3 linked regions of the Homo sapiens genome follow. The protein of the gene in region 2 interacts with the protein of the main gene of each other region in a biochemical or structural test. Each region holds a gene or a part of one and is shown on either strand. Other genes may lie near its edges.

Evidence for each region. Proteins that work in one complex are often made in the same cells at the same time.
Region 1: the proteins of RAB11FIP3 (region 2) and RAB3IP form a complex in vitro, tested with the Homo sapiens proteins (one study listed by IntAct).
Region 3: the proteins of RAB11FIP3 (region 2) and ASAP1 form a complex in vitro, tested with the Homo sapiens proteins (one study listed by BioGRID).

Annotation. Positions count from the first base shown.
Region 1 is NC_000012.12:69,790,846-69,797,868, forward strand, and holds part of RAB3IP (rab-3A-interacting protein isoform alpha 1), read left to right. Parts: intron 1-3,591; coding exon 3,592-3,669; intron 3,670-4,295; coding exon 4,296-4,499; intron 4,500-5,631; coding exon of another isoform or gene 5,632-5,757; exon of another isoform or gene 5,758-5,798; intron 5,799-7,023. UniProt on the Homo sapiens protein: Guanine nucleotide exchange factor (GEF) which may activate RAB8A and RAB8B. Promotes the exchange of GDP to GTP, converting inactive GDP-bound Rab proteins into their active GTP-bound form.
Region 2 is NC_000016.10:420,758-428,659, reverse strand, and holds the start of RAB11FIP3 (rab11 family-interacting protein 3), read right to left. Parts: upstream 3,012-7,902; 5' UTR 2,654-3,011; coding exon 1,940-2,653; intron 1-1,939. UniProt on the Homo sapiens protein: Downstream effector molecule for Rab11 GTPase which is involved in endocytic trafficking, cytokinesis and intracellular ciliogenesis by participating in membrane delivery. Recruited by Rab11 to endosomes where it links Rab11 to dynein motor complex.
Region 3 is NC_000008.11:130,111,666-130,118,688, forward strand, and holds part of ASAP1 (arf-GAP with SH3 domain, ANK repeat and PH domain-containing protein 1), read right to left. Parts: intron 7,011-7,023; coding exon 6,824-7,010; intron 6,582-6,823; coding exon 6,496-6,581; intron 5,331-6,495; coding exon 5,215-5,330; intron 5,081-5,214; coding exon 5,013-5,080; intron 4,350-5,012; coding exon of another isoform or gene 4,167-4,349; exon of another isoform or gene 4,149-4,166; intron 4,071-4,148; coding exon 3,963-4,070; intron 658-3,962; coding exon 429-657; intron 1-428. UniProt on the Homo sapiens protein: Possesses phosphatidylinositol 4,5-bisphosphate-dependent GTPase-activating protein activity for ARF1 (ADP ribosylation factor 1) and ARF5 and a lesser activity towards ARF6.

The sequences.
Region 1 (7,023 bases), on a different chromosome or scaffold from region 2:
AGTGCTGGGATTACAGGCGTGAGCCACTATGCCCAGCCCCAAAGTAATCTTGAGCAAGAAAAATAAAGCTGGATGCATCACACTTCCTGATTTCAAAGTACATGACAAAGTTACAGCAGTAAAAACAGTATGGCACTGATATAAAAACAGACATGTGGACCAATAGAAGAGAATAGAGAGCCCAGAAATGACACATTTTTGGTTAGCTGACCCTCAACAAAAATGCTAAGGACACCTAGTGGGGAGTAGATAGTCTTATCAATAAATGCTGCTGAGAAAATTGGATATCCACATGCAAATGAACGAAATTAGACCCTGATCTCACACCATAAAGAAAAATCAATTCAAATGGATTAAAGACTTACACATAAGACCTGAAACTGTAAACTCAGAAGAAACAAGGAAAAAGCTTCTTGACATTGGTCTGGGCAGTGATTTTTTTGGATGTGACACCAAAAGCACAGGCAACAAAAACAAAATGGACAAGTGGGAGTACATCAAACTAAAAAGCTTCTGCCCAGCAAAAAACAGTCAACAAAATGAAGAAGCGGCATACTGAATGGGAAAACATTTGCAAACCGTGTATCTGATAAGGAGTTAATATCCAAAGTATATAAGGCATGCAGTAGCAAAAAACAACCCAATTGAAAGATGGGCTAGGGGCCTAAATAGACATTTCTCCTAAGAAGACATACAAATGGCCAACCGGTATATGATAAGATACCCAGCATCAGTAATCATCAGGTAAATGCCAGTCACTCCCCAATGAGATAGCACCCCACACTGGTTAGAATGGCTATTATCAAAATACAAAAGATAGTAAATGTTGGCAAGGATGTGGAGAAAAGGAACTTGTCCACTATTGGTGGGAATGTAAATTGGTACAGCCATTATGGAAAACAGTATGGAAGTTTCTGCTCAAAAAATTAAAAATAAAGCTACCGCATGATCCAGCAATCCCACTTCCAGATATATATCCAAAAGAAAATTGCTATCCTGATGAGTTATCTGTGCTTCCATGTTCATTGCAGCATTATTCACAGTAGCAAAGTTATGGAAACAAGTTATATGTCTATTGATGAATGGATAAAGAAAATGTGGGGGGTATGTGTGTGTATATGAATACTACTCAGTCTTAAAATGGAAATCCTGCCTTTTGCAACAACATGAGCGAACCTGGAGGACATTTTGCTAAGTGAAATAAGCAAGACAGAAAGACAAATGCTACATTATCTCACTTATATGTGGAATCTAAAATAGTCGAGCTCATAGAAGCACAGAGTAGATTGGTGGTTGTCAGGGGCTGGAAAGTGGGAGAAACGGGAGATGTCGGTCATTGGTACAAAGTGTCAGTTATGCAGGATAGATAAATTCTGAAGACCCAATGTACAGCACGACTATATCGTATGTTACAAATTTGCTAAGAAGGTAGATCTTGTTTGCGCACCACCTCCCCTCCAAAAAAAAGGTAACTGAGAGGTGCTGGATATGCTAAAAGAAAAACAAAATGATATGTATATTTCAGTGTTCATAAATATTTATTAAAACAGCCACACTAATTTGTGTATTGTCTATGGCTGCTTTCATATTGCAACAGCAGAGCTGAGGAGTTGCAGCTGAGGCTGTATATGTATACATAGTGTTTGACTCTTTACAGAAAAAGTTTACCGACTCCTGGTATAGGTGATACTTACATCATTTTCAGCTTTGGAAGGGCAGTGTGATGGAAAATTTTCAAACTTTTTTTGAGTCTACCTTTTGATGTTTTTTGTCAATTTTTAAAAAATTCTGTAAAAATTCTGCATGTCATCTTTTTAGCAACTGATCCTGCCCCAGTCTAGTGCTCATCTTTCCTTTTGGGGCTCCAATTATATGTATGTTATACCTTTTCACTGTAACCCTTATGTCTGTAGTGGAAAAGTCACCTAAAATTTCACATTACTCTAAGTTTACTTCACTATTTTGTTCTCAGATACCTTCAAACATATTTTAAAAACAAACAAAAAACTTTTCTAGCTTTTCTAATCGTTCTCCGTTGGAGGTTTGGTACAAATTGCATAATCCACTATTAATGAAAACAGAGTCCATTTCCAAAAATTTAGTCAACTATTCTCTCCATAGTATGAATTACTTTTTCATTTAAAGTTAAAATGTTACTTATCTTGAAGGGTCAGATTAGCTGTGTTTATTATTTTTAAAACATTGCCAGATAGTTTTGTGTTGACAGCCACTTGTCCCAGAAAAATTCAGCAAATCTGAAACATTTGTTATTTTTAAAAGGAGAATATTTAACTCATTAAATTTGACAGCTCTTAAGGACTTTGCCAAGATAGCCAGAATAATAGTGCATGGAATATCTTCATGGTTAATATCATTTTGCTATAAATCATTGATAGTAAAGATTCTCCTATTTAAACTAGTATAAGCTGCAAATTCACATTCATGGGCACACACAAACTGCAGTGTTACAATACTGTAAAAGCTAATGAACAAACGGGAAACAAACAGTCAAACTCTGATGTAAAGAACTTCCACCTTTCCATTCTACCACTGTGCATTTTGACAGATCTAGTGAGGGTGCCATTGTCAAACTATTCATTAAATATCTTTGAAGCTCATTTCCTTCCTTCCTCTGATAAATTGTAAACTAAAGTTCTAAAATGTAAGTTCTTAAATCTCGGGGCACTATCTCAAGCACCCTATATATGCTTCCAGTCCATTCTTAATCCCTTACAGGGATTATTCTATACAAGGGCATAATCTTTTAAAAATAAAATGATCATGTCTTCCTTAAAAAAACTGTAAGGCTTCATATTGCATTTAGAATAAAACCCACAATTCTTATTCCGATGTTTTATTTGGTTAATACATATAAACAGAATGTAAGCTCCTTAAGAGCAGGGACTTTGTCCTTTCCCAGTACGTAATCAGCATCTGGAGCAGTACCTCACAAGGAGATGACATGAGTAAATGTCTCATGAATAAACATTATATGAATAAAAAGGAATTAAATACCTAGAGTTTCATATTTGTGGTACTAGAAGATTAAAACTCTATTAAAGGGTAAACTGATTTGCCTTTTTAGGTTGCTCTTCACAAAATTGTCACATAATAAAATTTTGGGAATGTTTTTATTGAAAGCTCTAAGGCTTCTTAGCTGTCATTACTATAAACTGCAACATTATTGGTGTGTTAATGTTTTTACTTGTCCCTCCTGTATGTCTTTGCTTTGACTAATAAGAACATATATAGTGACCACATTATAAAAAGCTGACTGCAAAGGAGTTGGCTTTGACACATTGGTCATTGTTTGCCTTCGTCACATTCACAGTCCTTACGCAAGTATCTATCCGGATGATTGATCTCAACTTGGCTGCCTCAGTGGTAATAGGTCCTAAAAGAAGGCACCTATTCCTAATGTCTCATAGTTTGTCTCTGTTGTCAACTGCTGCTTCCATAGTTGACATTGAATACTTAACTTCAGGCTAACTTTTGGTAGTATATCTTTGCTTCAATTGTAAACATTTGGCAAGAACTTTTTGAAAACAAATGCTACTTTGTTTCTAAAATTTGAGATGTTAACTTTTTCAGGAAGCTCATAAAATGGTGAGAGAAGCAAATATCAAGCAGGCAACAGCAGAAAAACAGCTAAAAGAAGCACAAGGAAAAGTGAGTTTTTGCAGCTCTTAATAGTATAAAATAAATTTGTGATAACTGTTTTAAAGATACCTTAACATCTGTTGGATTTTGTTCTGATCGTAAAGTAGTGCTTGTTTTCAATTTGGAAACTACAGAAAAATAGAAGAAAATAGCTACTATGTAGGTATAATTAATAGTAAACATTTCGTGTCCATTTATATGAGAACCAAATGATTTAAAACCTTGTAAATCACATGAATTATCCAAAGGATTATAGAATCACATTTTAATGTTAATACTTAGTTTTTAAATTCACTGAGAAAAGCCACCTAAATGTTATTAGATTTTACTGTTTTAGGAGTGAACTTCTACAACTAATCATAAGCTATTATATTTTGAGGATTTTGAAAATTCACATAAATGTTAGATATTTTGGTAATTTTCACAGGCTCATTTGACGTTGTTAATAATAGATGAATCCAAACCATATGGAAACATCAAAAAACTTGATTTTAGTTTCTTTTTATTACTCCACAGGAAATACAAATTAAACTTACTTTTCATCTTTGAAAGTGTTTTGACCAGATTGCTAATATTTAGCTGCATATGTCATGAAACGTATTTAATGTATGTGACTATGTTGATTTCTTTCCAAGATTGATGTACTTCAAGCTGAAGTAGCTGCATTGAAGACACTTGTATTGTCCAGTTCTCCAACATCACCTACGCAGGAGCCTTTGCCAGGTGGAAAGACACCTTTTAAAAAGGGGCATACAAGAAATAAAAGCACAAGCAGTGCTATGAGTGGCAGTCATCAGGACCTCAGTGTGATACAGCCAATTGTAAAAGACTGCAAAGAGGTAACTCATCAAGGACTGTCCCCTCTGACTCTGTTGATACTTGTTAGTTCTCATCACTGAGGTGTCAGTTATCATTTTTGCCAGCAAAATTTTTAGTACAAAATAATGCAGTATTAAGATGGGGGAGGCTTTATCTAGAGCTGGCTGCTTTCAGGGATTCTTCAGTTCCATTTTCTACCTGGCTGACCTTGGAGTACCTGCTGGAAACTTGGTAAGTTTCTTAATCTCAGTATTTCATTAAGGGAGGAAACTGTCATGTGTTGTCTAGAGGAGAGTGGGTGGCTTTAATGATCTGGCTAGTCAAAATTTATTGCTAGAGTGCGCTTACAAAGTATGGATATAAGAAATATGTGAAAATAAGATGATTTTCTTAAAGATCAATACATTGCTTTTATTTAAATTCAGAGAGAATTTTATGTCAGCAAGGGAGTCCTAGAGTTAATTTAGATAATTAAGCAACAAAAAAATAGAAATAATGGTAGCCTTACAATGACATAAGGCTGGAAGACATTTTGCTAAGTGAAATTTCAAGTTATAGTAGAACAATTAGTGTCATTTTTGATCCCAAATTAGGTTTCACAGTTCAGCCAGTCTGTTATTCAGACACTTACAACTATGTAAGGCCACCATTATCATGTATCCATAACAATTAAAAATTTAAAAACGAAATAATGGGCCGGGCATGGTGGCTCATGCCTGTAATCTCAGCACTTTGGGAGGCCAAGGCCGGAGGATCACCTGAGGTTGGGAGTTCGAGACCAGCCTGACCAACATGGAGAAACCCTATCTGTACTAAAAATATAAAATTAGCTGGGCATGGTATCTCATGCTTATAATCCCAGCTACTCAGGAGGCTGAGGCAGGAGAATCCCTTGAACCTGGGAGGCGGAGGTTGCGGTCAGCTGAGATTGCGCCATCACACTCCAGCCTGGGCAACAAGAGCGAAACTCTGTCTCAAAATCATAATAATAATAATAGTCTTATTTTAAAAGATATGTTACAAAGATAACTGAAATAATATATAAATATTTTGAGCTGTTTAGAGTAAAAATTTTTAATCATTGTATACTGTGAGAATGCATTTCTAAGAGGATTGATCAATAATTTATGAAGCTTTCCCATTTCTTCTTAGAAGCCATCTTTTACATTGTTAAATTCAAGTCCATCATTAATCTTGAAGAAATGTGTGTGCTTGTTAAATTTTTGTATGGAAGCCAGGAGTTTATTAAATGGAATAACCAATGTTAACCTGTTTTAATTGAATTGCATTTTGACGAATTATCAATAAAAATGATGCTGGTAAGAGAGAAGTTCAATACTTGGTTAAATCTGAATGTAACCAAATCCAAAATTCACATTGGTTTCTGTTAAATATTTAAGAAACTTCTTTGTCCTAACTTTAATTCTAATTCTTTGGAATTTAAATAGCAATTTTAATTGCCTGGTACAACTTGTATTTTTGGTGTTTCTTACTCAGTATGTGTAAGTAATTATGTACTTTCCCCCCTATTTACACTAACAAAATTATAAGTGTCTTCTCATGGAACATGGTAAAGATTCATTTTTAGTTTTTGAAATCCCTTAAAATGTGCATAGGCAGCATATAACTTCAAAATAATAACCTTTGCTCTTCAGGTACGTGTTATAGTCTGATGTTTCATGAAAAACTTGTCAAAAAGTCTTACTAGGCAAAGGAATTACATAAATTTGACCTGTGTAAGTCTTAGAAAAATATGTAACAATCTGGAAGAAAATTAAGCATGTCCGTGTTTTTGTAGAAAATATGATGGGGCACTCAGTTATGACATTAGCAACATGTCTTCTGTAAACATTTAAAATACACATGCATGCATGCAGACATACATGCCCAGTGCAAGGCTTTGGGATCAAGCCACTTAGATTTGAATTCGGACTTTACTGCTTTCTTGCTATGCAATCTCCGGCAAATTACAAATGGCAATCATAATATCTGTCTTGCACAGTTGTGAGGATTAAATGCTTGTAAAGTGCTTACGGTGGTTCCTGGCAGAGTCAGCTCTTAATAAATGGTTTAAATTACAGCCTTTAAACTAGAATCTTTCCTTAGAATACCACTTACCTGCTTTGGGGTTTATGTCCTTTTTCTTTTCTTTCTTTTTTTTTTTTTTTTTTTTTTTAATAAATTTGCATCTTTCTTTTTTTTTTAATTATTGTTATACTTTAAGTTTTAGGGTACATGTGCACAATGTGCAGGTTAGTTACAGATGTATACATGTGCCATGCTGGTGCCCTGCACCCACTAACTCGTCATCTAGCATTAGGTATATCTCCCAATGCTATCCCTACCCCATCCCCCCACCCCACAACAGTCCCCAGAGTGTGATGTTCCCCTTCCTGTGTCCATGTGTTCTCCTTGTTCAATTCCCACCTATGAGTGAGAATATATGGTGTTTGGTTTTTTGTTCTTGCGATAGTTTACTGAGAATGATGATTTCCAGTTTCATCCATGTCCCTACAAAGGACATGAACTCATCATTTTTTATGG
Region 2 (7,902 bases):
TCTACTCCTGTGAGACCTTGGGAGAGCTATCTGACCTTTCTGGGTTTCCAGTTTCTTACCTGTAAAGTGGGGATGAATCCTGCTTACCTACTATCTCAGAGAACTGTGGTATGATCCAGTGGAAACATCCTGAGCCTCACAGAAGTTCTCTATCAAGAGTTGGGTTATGGTAACAAGGAGCAAATGTGGTACTCTCCTAACTTCTTTGCTGTACTGAAGCAAGAGTATGTTTGGGAGAAGAGACAGCGCAGTAGCCAACAGCAACCAAGGGAGCTCAAGGTGCTCTCCAGCCCAGGGGCAAGAAGGAAACGCAGCAAAACACCTGGACCAGCAACCACCATCCACGCTGACCATACAGGAAAGTATCAGTCACATATTTCACTGCCCATTAGTGTAGGTGGAAAACTACCCTGACAATATCCCAACCGGAGCTAAGCTTGCGAGCATTGCAGGCTGCCCCGCACGCACCTGTCTGCACATCTTCTTAATGTGAACTCAGCAAGGAACCCTGATTTATCAGGACCCTGTGTTTTTTGTTTTGTTGCTGTTTTTTTTTTTTGAGACGAAGTCTCGCTCTGTCGCCCAGGCTGGAGTGCAGTGGCGCGATCTCCGCTCACTGCAAGCTCCGCCTCCCGGGTTCACGCCATTCTCCTGCCTCAGCCTCCCGAGTAGCTAGGAGTACAGGTGCCCGCCACCACGCCCGACTAATTTTTTTGTATTTTTTAGTGGAGACGGGGTTTCACCATATTAGCCAGGATGGTCTCAATCTCCTGACCTCGTGATCCGCCCGCCTCGGCCTCCTAAAGTGCTGGGATTACAGGCATGAGCCACCGCGCCCGACCATCAAGGTTCTTAATGTTATGACTGACACCCTAAATAGCAGTGTGCCAATTTTACCTCTTTTCTTACAGACCTCTTGGCTTAAACATGCATATGTACTTGAACACCCACTTACCAGATGTCTGCATGTGTGAGAAGTCAAAATACAAAAAATTGACAGATGCACCTTAGGGATTTCCTGCTAAGTAAAATATTTAAAAGTGAGCACTGGTATTATTTGATGTCCACCGGGTTATTGGCAGAACACACACGGCCCTGCTGTTATCTCCACTTAAACTTTATTAAGTGCTGAGGTAGACAGGAACAACTGCATCTTGGGGCCCACCTTTCCCCCAGGAGCAGGTGCCCTGAGGACCGCGTGGACCCCTTCCACACTGTACTGTGCGTAGTGCCTGTCCACGCATTTCACCTCTCCTACGAGAGTGGACGTGGCCCTAACGGAGTTCTGCTAGACTTCTGCATTTGCCAACAAGCTCCGAGGCTCATTGCCTTCCTCCCCAAAGGCACCAAAGTAAAAATTCTTAATTCCAGGACTCTCTACAAGCATTGACTGTCTCCCAAATAAAAGATGAAATCTAAGTAGAAAAGATGTCAACCACACACAGTAAAGTAATTGTACTCAAAATAGGTGTCTATCAGTAGGATCTCAAGGCGTCTGGGCAGCCTGGCCTCTGCGGCTAGAACTTGGGTGAATTCAGCCGAGCAGTATCTGGGCCCTCGGGTGGGGGAATCGCGGGGAACTTCTTCATTCAGGGGCACGTCGATCAGGCACCCTGGGGGGGTGGCGATCAGGCCCCCTGGGGGGGTGTCCCCAGGCGAGGAGCTGACCTCGGTAAGATCCAGCTGACGAGGCGCTGGGGGGAGGGGAAGAAACTGACTCCCCAGAATAGAACCTCCTTTTAAGAAGGGAAGAGGGACTCCAGCGCAATTCAACCAGAAATCCAGGGCCGAAGTGGTGAATAAGCAGAAAAAGCAGGACCGTCAGGTCTTGACAGTGCCTTTCCCGACTCCAGGGGCAGCGTCGACCGGTCCCACATCAACCCCGCCGGCCAGCGCGCACCTGCCCAGTTCCCACGCCCCGGCCCGGGCCGCTCCGTACCTGCTCTGCCCCGTAGACCGTAGCAAACTGGATGAAGTCCTCGATGCGGACGAAACCGTCCCCATCCCCGTCCAGGGCATCGAACACGGCTCGGAGGCGGGGGCCGTCCTCCTGACTCCCCACGGGCTCGCTCGGAAGGGGGTGGGTCTGGCTGAGGTCCGAGGGCTGCGGCGGGGACCCGGGACCTTGCTCCAGCGCCAGCTCGCCCGCCGTGGGCGCGGGGAAGGGAGAGAAGACGTCGACCTCGCCCCGCGCTCGGTGGCTGCTGCTGGACCCCTGCAAGCGGAAAGGCGCGCTCTCCGGGCAGCTCGCGGGGCCACACTCCTCGGGCTCCTCAGTCCAGGAGAACAACGGGTCGAGTTCTGGAAGCGGCGCTTCGGAGCGCGGCCCTGGGCCCGGGGCGTCGGGGCTCGCAAGCTGCCCCCGCGGGCCGGAGCGCGGCGGCGGGGCGGACGGCCCGGGGTCTCGCGGGCCTCCCTCCAGCCCCGGGGCCGGCCCGGCGCTCCAACGCGCCCCGCCATCTGCAGCGGCCCCGGGCGCAGGCTCATCCAGGCCCGGGGACTGCGGGTCGGGGCCGCCGACGGGCGCTCCGAGGCGTAGCTCCGCAGGGCCCGGAGCCAGTTGTGCCGCCCCCGGCCCGTCCGGCCCGCCCGGCTCCGGGTCGGGCCCCGGCGGCTCCGAGCCCGGGGGCGAGGCCGGCGGGGCCGACGCCATGCTCCCGAGAGGCTAGTGGTGCGGAAGGGCGCGGGCGGCAGACAAAGGCGCTCAGGGCGCGGCGGCGGGCGCGGGCATCCCCTCGGCGGCGCGGGCGGGCGCGCGCGGGGCGCCCGGGCTGCTGGGGCTGGCGCTCGGGCCCTGCTCTGTCCTCGCCCATCTTCGCACCGCGCCTCAGCTGCCCTCGGCCCGGCGGCGCGGCGGGCGCAGGCCCATGGCGGCGGGGCGGCCTAGGGAGGGCGGCGAGGATCCGGGCGGCGGATGGCGGGGGACGGGGGCCGAGGAGGCCGGGGGACGGGGGCCGAGGAGGCCGGAGGCCGCGGAGCCTGTGAAGCAGGATGAGGAGACTAAGGAGGCTGAGGCGCCTGAGGTACCCGGAGAACTAACGCCGCCGCCGCCCAGGCCCCGCCCCCCGTCGGGCCTGACGTCAGCACGTCCCGGCGGGGTCCCAGCCCCTCGCCGGCTTGCTGTAGAGGCAGGCGCCGGGTGTGTCGCGGCAGTGCAGCGGCCGCGAAGGGGTGTTTTGCTGTATGTCATATTCCTCGTTTCGCCAGAGCGGGGGTCCCGAGCTTCGGGCGCGGGACGCGGGGGTGCTCCGAGGCTGCGAGTGGAGGCGTGACGTGACGTCCCTGGCAAGAGGCGCGCGGAGTCAGGCCTTACTTAGAACGTGTTCCCGCCGCACAGCTACCAGCGGGCGCGACCGCTACCCACGCATGGTGCGGTCGAGTAAACGGCACCGCCTGGCGAGCGAGAGACGCAAAGGGACATAGCCCCCTAGGAGCTGAGCTCTTCGGGGGTAAAGCGTTCTCACGTTGATGAGACCAGGAGGCGGCGCACGCCTGGCTCCGCGGCCCAGGGGTTGCAGGTGCCCCAGGGTTCGCGGGGCGCAGACGCCGCAGAGGGCGACGCCCTGCCCGGGTCCCGCGCGGACCCGGGGGACGCAGGGTCTGACACGGAGTGCGGAGGGGCCCCAGACACGCAGTCCATGTCCCTTGAAACCAGAGGCACGCGCGGCCACGCGCTAGGCCTTTCCCTTAAGCCTGTGACCAAGATCTCCGGGACTCCCAGCGTTGGGACGGGCGCGCTGGCCCACGCCCAAGCGGGAGGATCGCTTGCGCCCAGGAGATTGAGACCAGCCTGAGCACCAAAGCGAGACCTCGTCTCTACAAAAAATAAGACTCAAGAAGACACCCAGGGTGAATCGCCCGTCTGCAGCCAGCCTCCCGAGCACCGTGGCCGCGTCTGACAACTGACCTCTGTGTCTGGGTGTCCCTGTCCTCAGAGGGACACGGGACCTCAGAAAGGACCACAGCCCGGCGGCAGGCATGATGGTGGGAAAGCTAGTTAGGACAGGTGAGGCACTAAATTTAGCCTGTCATAATTTGTATCAGGGAAATGATGAACTTGTATTTTTACACACCATGGGCACCAACACAAGATATGGTTTCGTAAGCAGCTTTGGCAAGAACCAAAGGAACGGAACCTCTGCTTCCAAGTGTACGGTCAGGAGCAGCGTGTTAATTAAGTGAGTCATCTTCCGTGGCAGAATCCCAGGGTACATGGGACCAGACTTCGCGAGGCTGGCATTAGGAAAAGGAATGTGAGGGATCCTCCTCCCCAAACCGTATTCTCATTTTCTTGTAAGAGCTGTACGTGTTCATGAGGAAGATACTGCATTCAAAGAACGAAATCACCAGCAGCTTTGGCAAGAATTCAAATTTGGGCTGATGCCTTCGGCCGGATAAAATTTTCAGAAGCAGTGATAGTGATGTGTCAACCTTTCTAAATAGGGGTGTTAGTGTGGGCGAGGCAGAGACAGCAGGCTCCCTCTGCTTTTATGTGCCGGCGCTGCCAGAGGCAGAAGGCTGGCTTTCTGAGAGCAGGGGCCCGCACGCTCTGTCTGTGCTAGGGCTGGAAAACGTCCATTGCGTGCCCGGCTGGTGTCCTCCATGGAACCACAGCCTGGAAGCCTGCACCTCCCTGCCTGGACCAGTTAGAGGCTGTTCATGAAAGACTAAAGGGACAAGTTCCCGTCTATCCGTCTGCTGTTCAGAGCTACTATCTGTGTCCCCTTTGTAGGCTGTGGGCTGTAGCAGTTCCTTCTTTTCTTTTCTTTTCTTTTTTTTCCCCGAGACAGGGTTTTGCTCTGTTGCCCAGGCTGCAGTGCAGTGGTGCGACCATAGCTCACGGCAGCCTCAACCTCCTAGGCTCAAGAGATCCTCCCACCTTAGGCCAGGTGTGGTAGCTCATGCCTGTAATCCCAGGACTGTGGGAGGCTGAGGCGGGCGGATCACGAGGTCAGAAAATGGAGACCATCCTGGCTAACACGGTGAAACCCCGTCTCTACTAAAAATACAAAAAAACAAAAATTAGCCAGGTGTGGTGGCAGGCACCTGTAGTCCCAGCTATTTGGGAGGCTGAGGCAGGAGAAAGGCGTGAACCCGGGAGGCAGAGCTTGCAGCGAGCCAAGATTGCACCATTGCACTCCAGCCTGGATGATAGAGCAAGACTCCGTCTCCAAAATAAAAAATAAAAATAGAAGAGAGATCCTCCCACCTCAGCCTCTCCAGTAGCTGAGACCACAGATCTGCAGCACCTTATTATCTTTTTTTTTTTTTTGATATGGAGTCTCACTCTGTCGCCCAGGCTGGAGTGCAATGGCGCGATCTCTGGTCACTGCAACCTCCGCCTCCCGGGTTCAAGTGATTCCCCTACCTCAGCCTCCTGAGTAGCTGGGATTACAGGCGTATGCCACCAAGGCCGGCTAATTTTTTGTATTTTTAGTAGAGACCGGGGTTTCACCATGTTGGTCAAGCTGGTCTCAAACTCCTGACCTCAAGTGATCCGCCCACCTCGGCCTCCCAAAGTGCTGGGATTATTGGCATGAGTCACCACACTTGGCCTCAACATGCGTTTTGGAGGGTATAAACATTCAAAGCATAGCCTCCATCTTCTCACTCTGTCCTCACATGTTGGAGAAAGATTGTCTCTTTTGGGCTGGGCGTGGGAGCTCATGCCTGTAATTCCAGCACTTTGGGAGGCCGAGGCGGGTGGATCACGAGGTCAGGAGTTCAAGACCAGCCTGGCCAAGATGGTGAAACCCCGTATCTACTAAAAAATAGAAAATTTAGGCCGGGCGCGGTTGCTCAGCCTATAATCCCAGCACTTTGGGAGGCAAGGTGGGCGGATCACAAGGTCAAGAGATCGAAAACATCCTGGCAAACATGGTGAAACCCTGTCTCTACTAAAAATACAAAAATTAGCCGGGTGTGGTGGCACCCACCTGTAGTCCCAGCTACTCGGGAGCCTGAGGGAGGAGAATCGCTTGAACCTGGGAGGCAGAGGTTGCAGTGAGCGAAGATCGCACCACTGCACTCCAGCCTGGCGACAGAGCGAGACTCCACCTAAAAAATATATGTATATATTAGCCGGCCGTGGTGGCGGGCACCTGTAATCCCAGCTACTCAGGAGGCTGAGGCAAAGAATTGCTTGAACCCGGGAGGTGGAGGTTGCAGTGAGTCAAGATCACACCACTGTACTGCAGCCTGGGTGATGGAGTGAGACTCTGTCTCAAAAAAAAAGAAAAAAAATTATCCGGGGGCGGTGGCGGGTGCGTGTAATCCCAGCTACTCAGGAGGCTGAACAGGGTAATCACTTGAGCCTGGGAGGCAGAGGTTGCAATGAGCTGAGATCCAGCCACTACACTCCAGCCTGGGCAACAGAGCGAGACTATCTCAAAAAAAAAAAAAAGGCGGGCGTAATGGCTCACGCCTGTAATCCCAACACTTTAGGAGGCCAAGGCGGGTGGATAACCTGAGGTCAGGAGTTCGAGACTAGCCTGGCCAACATGGTAAAACCCTGTCTCTACTAAAAATACAAAAACTAGCTGAGCGTGGTGGCGTGTCCTGTAATCCCAGCTACCTGGGAGGCTGAGGCAGGAGAATACTTGAACCCGGGAGGTGGAGGTTGCAGTGAGCCAAGATCCCACCATTGCACTCCAGCCTGGGCAACAAGAGGGAAACTCCATCTCAAGGAAAACAATAAAATAAAAATAAGGCTGGGCACGGTGCCTCACGCCTGTAATCCCAGCACTCTGGGAGACCGATGCGGGTGGATTACCTGAGGTCAGGAGTTCAAGACCAGGCTTGCCATGGTGAAACCCCATCTCTACTAAAAATACAAAAAATTAGCCAGGCATGGTGGTGCATGCCTGTAATCCCAGCTACTTGGGAGGCTGAGGCAGGAGAATCACTAGAACCTGGGAGGCGGAGGTTGCAGTGAATCGAGATTGTGCCATGGCACTCCAGCCTGGGCAGCAAGAGTGAAACTCCGTCTCAAAAAAAGAAAAAAGAAAAAAAAAGACTGTCTCTTCTAATAAGGGCACTGTTCCCATCGTGAGGGCCCCACCTTGCTGACCGTATCTAACCCTAATTATTATTATTATTATTTTTTTTTGAGACGGAGTCTTGCTCTGTCGTCCAGGCTGAAGTGCAATGGCGCCATCTCAGCTCACTGCAATCTCTGCCTCCCGGATTCATGCCATTCTCCTGCCTCAGCCTCCCCAGTAGCTGGGACCACAGGCACCCGCCACCATGCCTGGCTAATTGTTTTGTATTTTTACTAGAGCCGGGGTTTCACCGTGTTAACCAGGATGGTCTCGATCTCCTGAGCTCATGATCCACCCGCCTCGGCATCCCAAAGTGCTGGGATTACAGGCGTGAGCCACCGCGCCCGGCCCTAACCCTAAGTTATACCTCCCAAAGACCTCATCTCCAAATACCATCCCGTTGGCGTTAGGACTCCAATATATAAATTTTGGGGTAGCAACTGGGAAGAGAGAGTTAGAATGGATTTAATGGACAAAATATTCATTTCTAGAATACACAAAAGAATTTCTCAAAAAACAGTAAACGAACAGCAACCCGATAGAAAAACGAGGAAAGAATATGAATAAGCAGCTCCAGAAGAGGAAATTCAGGTGGCCGGTAAACACATGAAAAAGATGCTCATCTTCACTGGTCACCAGGAAAATGTGTGAGTGTAGCCCTTGACACCAATCAGAGTAAGTCTGGGGACACCAGGGAGTGGGGATTTGGCACCAGTCGTGCAGCTGAAGGTCGGAATACTCCAGTGTGGGATCCGCCTTCCAGTACCTGCCGGAGAAACTGCACATGTCCGCAGGGAGATGGAAAGACCTTGTTTCCTTCGGGGATTTGTACTTCTCTGGAAGAAGAGCCGAACGGCTTCAG
Region 3 (7,023 bases), on a different chromosome or scaffold from region 2:
AAAAGTAACTTTCCAGAGAACTGAAACTCCACTCCACATTATAAAAAGTACAGGTTCTGGAGCCACGTGGACCTCAGATTGAATCTCAACTTTACCTCTTACCAGTGGTGTGACCTTGGGCTGGTCAGTGTATCTCATTGAGCCTTAGTTTCCTCTTCTGTAAAATGGGCACAAAAGCACATACTTCACAGGATTGTTGTAAGGTTAACACAAATAATGCACAAAGAGAGCCCACAGCACTGCCTGTCCTGCTCTTGGTACCTGGCAAATGGCATGGTCCCTATTTCAAGCTGCTCCTGACAACACGATCCGCGCCACTCAAATGTACCTTGCAATTCTTACCTCAAAGCTGGCTAGACTATCAGCTCTGAGGATGGAGTCACAAGCCCTTCGAGGATGGAGTCACAAGCCCTTCTCAAAGCCCATACCTTTCCCGGCGTTCCTAGGAGGCAGAGGGGGAGCCTCCGTGGTTGGTGATGTGGGCGAGTCTGTGCTTGTGGAAACGAAGATCTGGTTGGTGAAGGCTCCATAGGAGAGCCGCTGTTTGTCCCTTGGAGTGCTGAATCCTGGCAGTGCCAGCTTGTCCTGGGGGGAGATGCTGGAGGAGTGGCAGAAGCTCTGAGGTCTGGGTGAGCGCTCTTTCTTGATAGGGCTTGGCTGGCAGATGAAATAAGAAGGTGAGATAATAATCAAGGACCACCCTTCATGTGTACAGAGGGCCTCCGCAGGGCGGGCTCAGGTGGGAATCTGGGTTCCTGTGGCTCTCTGAGCTTTATGAGGTCAGCCACAATGAGCCTCATGATGCTGACACAGTACAAGGGAAGGATCTAGATACCACACTTTCATATCGTTCACCACTATGAATAATCACACTAGTGAAACACTGGTTAGGATCAGCAGCAGTGTCAGAAGCACAGTAAGGTCACAGGTAGATTTAACTTTTAATAAGCAAACACCTTCAGAATGCAGGACTTTTTCAGCAACATTTGAATAGTATTTCCACCTATTTCTAATTTGCTACATTAAGTTTTGTTCCCTGCTCAACCCTTTAACGTTGAAGTTCTTTCTTTGCCTCTTTTCTCATTTTATATCCCCCTGCAAAGTAAACGGATTCACACCCACTGCCCGCTACACAATAATTACTTACAGATCTGTAAATACAACCCCAGTGACTTGTGTTCCAAACCAATGGCCCATGAGGTATCTCTGGTATTTGCGCTTGTGGTGATGGCATTAGGATCCACTCAACTGCCCAGGTTAGAAACCTCAGTGTCACCTGGAGTCCCTGGTTCCTGCATTCCCCTTGGAAATATCCCTTGAAGCCCCTCCTAGTACAGGTGCTCACCAGCTCCCACTGCAGCTCTAGCCTCCAGAATGGCCCCTTCTCCAGTTTCCTTCCTCCAGTCCATTCTCCACACTGCAGCCAGAGCTGGTGGGAAACCTTGCTCTTTAGACAATAAACCTCTGTGGGCTTCTGACTGCTTGCACAAAAACCCAAAGGCCAAACCTTGCCCACAAAGCCATCCTGATCTGGTTTGCCTGACTCTACAAGGCAGCTGCCTGCCTCTCCCCACCCAGCCAGGTGAATGCATCTCACACACAGTGCTTCTCTCCATTCCTCCGACATCCAGACTCTACCATGACTCCTTCCCTTGGCACGTGGTGTTCTGGAATGATGCATTCCACCCCACTTCTTTCCCTGGCAAGCTTCCACCTATCCTTAGAAACCCATCTCCAATGTCCTTGAGAAGGCAGACTGAGGCAGCTGCTTGGTCCTCTGAATAGCTCTCAGGAATTTTTCCATACTCTTATAATGATTATCACATTGTATTATAATTTATTTCCTCTTAAAGTTGTTAAGGCTTGAGGACCTCTTTGGCCATTCCTTACATCCTGCCTGTGATACAGGAAATGTCCAATACATAGGCAATCAATTAATGCATGAATGAACTTTCAGAGGTAGTTAACTGCTTATAAGGAAAACTCAGTGAGAACTGGGTTTAATCCTCCAAACTGTCTTTACTAGCTGGGAGACTTTAGACAAGTTGCTAAATTCTCTTTGTAAGTTTTCTCTTCTGTAAAATGGGGATAACAATGTCCCTTATGTACTTTTTTTTTTTTTTCCTCTGAGACAGGGTCTCACTCAGACACCCACACCCAGGCTGGAGTGCAATGGGACAATCTTGGCTCATCACAGCCTTGAGTTCCTGGGCTCAGGTGATTCTCCCACCTCTGCCTCCCGGGCAGCTGGGACCACAGGCGCACACCACCACGGCCAGCTAATTTTTGTATTTTTTGTAGAGAGAGGGTTTCGCCATGTTGCCCAGGCTGGTCTCAAGCTTCTGGGCTCAAGGCATCCACCCGTCTCACCCTCCCAAAGTGCTGGGATTACAGGTGTGAGCCACAGCACTCAGTTATGGACTTTCAATAAAGATGATCTGAGATAACGTAAGTGCTTAAATCTGTCTAATCCATATTTAATGAACATCATTCCTTAATGACAGGCATACATTCTGAGAAATGTGTTAGGTGATTTCGTTCTTGTGCGAACATCATAGAGTATACTTACACAAACCTAGATGGGAGAGCCTACTACACACCTAGGCTATATGGTATAGCCTATTGCTCCCAGGCTACAAACCTGTACAGCATGCTACTATACTAAACATTGTAAACAACTGTAACACAATGGTAATTACTTGTGTATCTAAACATAGAAGAGGTAAAATAAAAACATGTTATATAAGATTAAAAAATGGTACATCTATGTAGGACACTTTCCATAAATGGAGCTGGAAGGACTGGAAGCTGCTCTGGGTGTGAGTGAAGGCCTAGGACATTACTGTACATTTTTATACAACTCAGTGCAGTAGGTTGGTTTATACCAGCATCCCACAACCATTTGAGGAATGTGTTGCACTACCGTATTATGACATCTATGGCATCACTAGGTGATGGCTATTTTTCAGCTCCGTTTTAATCTTATATTGATCCCCATTGAGTATGCAGTGTGTTGTGGACTGAAATGTTATTATACAGTGCATGATTATGTTCAATAAATAACAACTGTTATTTACTTACTAATTACTTGTTTTGAAGGTTAATTTTTTTTTTTTTTTTTTTTAAGATATAGGGTCTTGCTCTGTCATTCAGGTCAAGAGTGCAGTAGTACAATCATAGCTCACTGCAGCCTCAAACTCCTGGGCTCAAGCAATCCTCCTGCCTCAGCTTGTCAAATAGCACCACCACGTTTTATTGATTGATCCATTTACTTTGTAGAGACAGGGTCTCACCATTTTGCTTAGGTTGCTCTCGAATTCCTGGTCTCAAGCGATAGTTCTGCCTTGGCCTCCCAAAGCGCTGGGATTATAGGCATGAGCCACCATGCCTAGCTTCATGGTTAATTTTATGTGTCAACAGGCTACAGTGTCCTGGTGTTTGGTCAAATACTAGTCTAGATGTTGCTGTAAAGGAATTTTTTAGATGCAATTACCATTTAAATGAGTAGATTTCGAGTCAAGGGAACTACCCTTCATGATGTGGGTGTGCCTCACCTAATCAGCCAAAGAAAGGCCTTAAAAAGACTGAGGTCCCCCAAAGGGTAAGGAATGCTGCCTCCAGACTGTCTTTAGCCTGAAGACTGCAACATTAACTCCTGCTGGGATTTCCAGCCTGCTGGCCTGCCCTGTGCATTTTGAACTTGACAGCTCCTTCAATCATGTGAGCCAATTCCTTAAAAAAAATTTCTCTGTCTCTCTCCCTATCCTGTTGGCTCTGTTTCTCTGGACAACCTTAATATAGCTGTTAAATGGTGCCCAATAAGGACTGAACAACATAAATGGCCCTGATACATTGGATCATAAAACCACAATCAATCAATCTCACCAAAAATGGATCTTGTCTACACAGACTAGAAAAGTTGGGGTAGTTGTTGAGAATTCGAGGACATAATTTACACTCACTTTGTCATCCAGATCATCATCGCTCTCATCTATCTCCTCCTGTCGAAGATTCCACTCATATTCTACGTGGACGTGTGGATTGAACTTTCCAGATTTAGCCTGGGAAAGCTGGAAGGAACAGCAAATGTGCACCATTTTAATTTAAATGCTGAAACATCCCAATATTATACAAACACTGAGCAAATCCCACCTTATTCCTAGTTTTCAATGAATCATCTGTAGGTGTACTATAGGCAACACTCTGCTTAGACAAGCTGCACTGCTATGTGACAGGCTCAAGAAGAAATGCAAACAATTGCAGGCAGAGCCTTCTTTATTTTGATGACTTGTCTCCAAAATTAAAAGCTTTCTTCTTATTAAATGGGCCTCAAACTTGCAAATTCCTGGCTGAAAGGCAAAACGAGTCTTTGAAGTTTAAGACGTAGGCTTTTAAGGTCCCAGTCCAATCTGTGGCCCCATTTTCTCATTCATAAAATGGGAGCAGGGATAATTGTCTCAAAGGATTCTTTTAAGAATAAAAAGGCCCAACTGGTGGGCCTGGAACCTGGCACTTAGCAGAAACTCAAGAGAATCACACTAATGTGAAGGCCCTGACTTGCTAAGCAAGAACTAGTAGGGTCAAAAAAGGTGAATGTGCACAGGAAGGGGAGGGGCTGGGAGAACAGTGTGTTAACATTTTGAAGACCACTACTCTCTGAGCTTTACTTGCCCAATTTTTGGAGCAGCTTCTCAAATAATTCTTTACTATTAAGCTGCAGAGAAAGTCTAATGGTCTGGGAAATAAAAAGCATGACCTCAATGCACAAGTCGATCTGGTAATAATACTTGTGTAATGCCTTTCACCTCCTTTAACTGCATTCCAAAAACATGTGGATGACAAATTTATCATTTTACCACTTTTTCTAATGTAGCACATTGCTCATCTGATTTTCTTTAGCAAGTGTTAAAAAAAAATGAATCTGCATTTTTAATATTCAATTCTAGCTTCTCAGAATGACACTTTTAAGGCAGCCAATGTCTAATAAATCTCCCACGTCCATTTTTGCTTACCAGATCTTCACACTGGGTAGCTTTTAGTCTCTTTGCTATGTCTAGGGCAGTTTCTCCAGCCTGGTTAACTGAAATAGGAAAAAAATTAATTTGCATAATTATCTAGGAAACACCTTAAGAAGGCAAGGAACAATAATCAAATTACAATGTACCATGCAACACACGCTTACTACAGTCATGAAGACACTAGACACACTCTTACCTATATCCACAGTGGGCTTGCTCCTGAGCAAAAGCTTCAAACACTCAGGTTTACTGTACATACTACAGTAGTGTAGAACTGTGTTTCCCAGGGCCGTCTGCTTATCCAGGTTCCCACTGAAAAATTAGATGATGATTAGAAAAAAATGACTTACTTTATAACTTAAAACTATAGATTAGCCACTTATTTTTGTGCTGACAACTGAGTCAAATTTGAGACCTAATTATTATAATAGAGAAAATTATGATGTTTCTAACCTAGATTTATAAGCAATACAGTGATAACAGGCAGTATTTATTTAGAGTGCCAGGTCCTATGGGACAGACACTGTTTCTTAACATTTACATGTATTAGTTCATTGAATCTTTACAACTATATGATGGGGTAAATACTAATAATAACCGCTTTTACAGATAAAAAACCCTGAAGCGCAGAGAGGCTGAAGTGCTTGCTTTCAAGATTTTCAAGATAGGGATGGTGAAGCAGGGATATTTGAACACAGGTAATCTATCTCTGGAGCCAATGTTTTGAGCCACTATGCTATATTGTCTCTGAGGAAGAAACCTGGACTTTTATACAATTTGGCTTGTGTCTATGTACCATTTTTCCTCTATGGGTTCAAATCCCCTCACTATTTTGATCTTCTTCTTTAGATGAGCTCTAGTTCCTCCTCATCATCTGTTGCTTACAGAACAGATAAAGAGAATAAAGAATCCAGCAAGTCCAAACTTCCTATATTCACTCTTATACTTCCATCAGTATATCCCAAACTTGAATGAGCTATTGATCCAGCCACACACACTGCTGCTGTCTTATATTAAATTTAGGAACAATGAAAACTCACAAATATGGTTGACCTGTGCTGTTAAGTCTTCTCTCTTTTAACCTCTCCTAACGGTTAGCAAATGTGTCCAATCTGTGCAGCAGATTTTTGGATACAGACATAATTTTACATTTATAAAGGCCAAGAGATGGCAAACTACAGCCTGTAGGCCATATCTGGTTCACTGTCTGTTTTTATAAACAAAATAATAAAGTTTCATTGGAATACAGCCACACTTGCTTGTTTACACATTGTCAGTGGCTGCTTTCACACTACCATGGCAGAAGTGAATAGCTCTGACAGAGAGACTTCATGCCTGCAAAGCCAAAAATAATTTTTATATCTAGCATGACACAGAAAAAGCTTGCCAATTCCCGATCTAGGCCACTGATAGGACTGGTTTGTGTTAATTTATAAGGCATATTCAGGTAATTCAACAGAGAAAACAAAAACGATACCAGTTTTGTACAAGGAAGTCAACCAAATGGAGAGATGTCTGATCTGCAGTTCGGACGGCAAGGTGAAGGGCTGTCTCCCCAAGCTCCTAAAAAGGGAAAGAAAAGTATAAGTAAGTCAATAATATGCTCTGCCAAGGGAGGCTTCATATATATCAGTTGCCCCCAAGTAATTATAAGGAGCACACCTCTTCACTCTCATATTCTCTTGATTTAGACATGGCCACCCAATGTATAAGAATCTCATTATATGGTATAATGTTAAAATAAGTCACCTTTTAAACTGATTTTCCACATTACTTTTTATCCAATGATTTTAGTGAGGCCTTACCTGCCCAGGTTCCAGCAGTGGTTCCATTAGCTCTACCCCTTCTGCATAGACTTGAATTAGTGCAAGTAAATCCCTGGATTTGATGGCCTCAAGCAATTCATTTAGTTTAGCTGATGAAGTTGAACAGGTCTTCCTTGAAAACCTATGATCTACATACTTTGCAGTGATATATTCTTTTCGTACAGTCCTAAAACAGAACA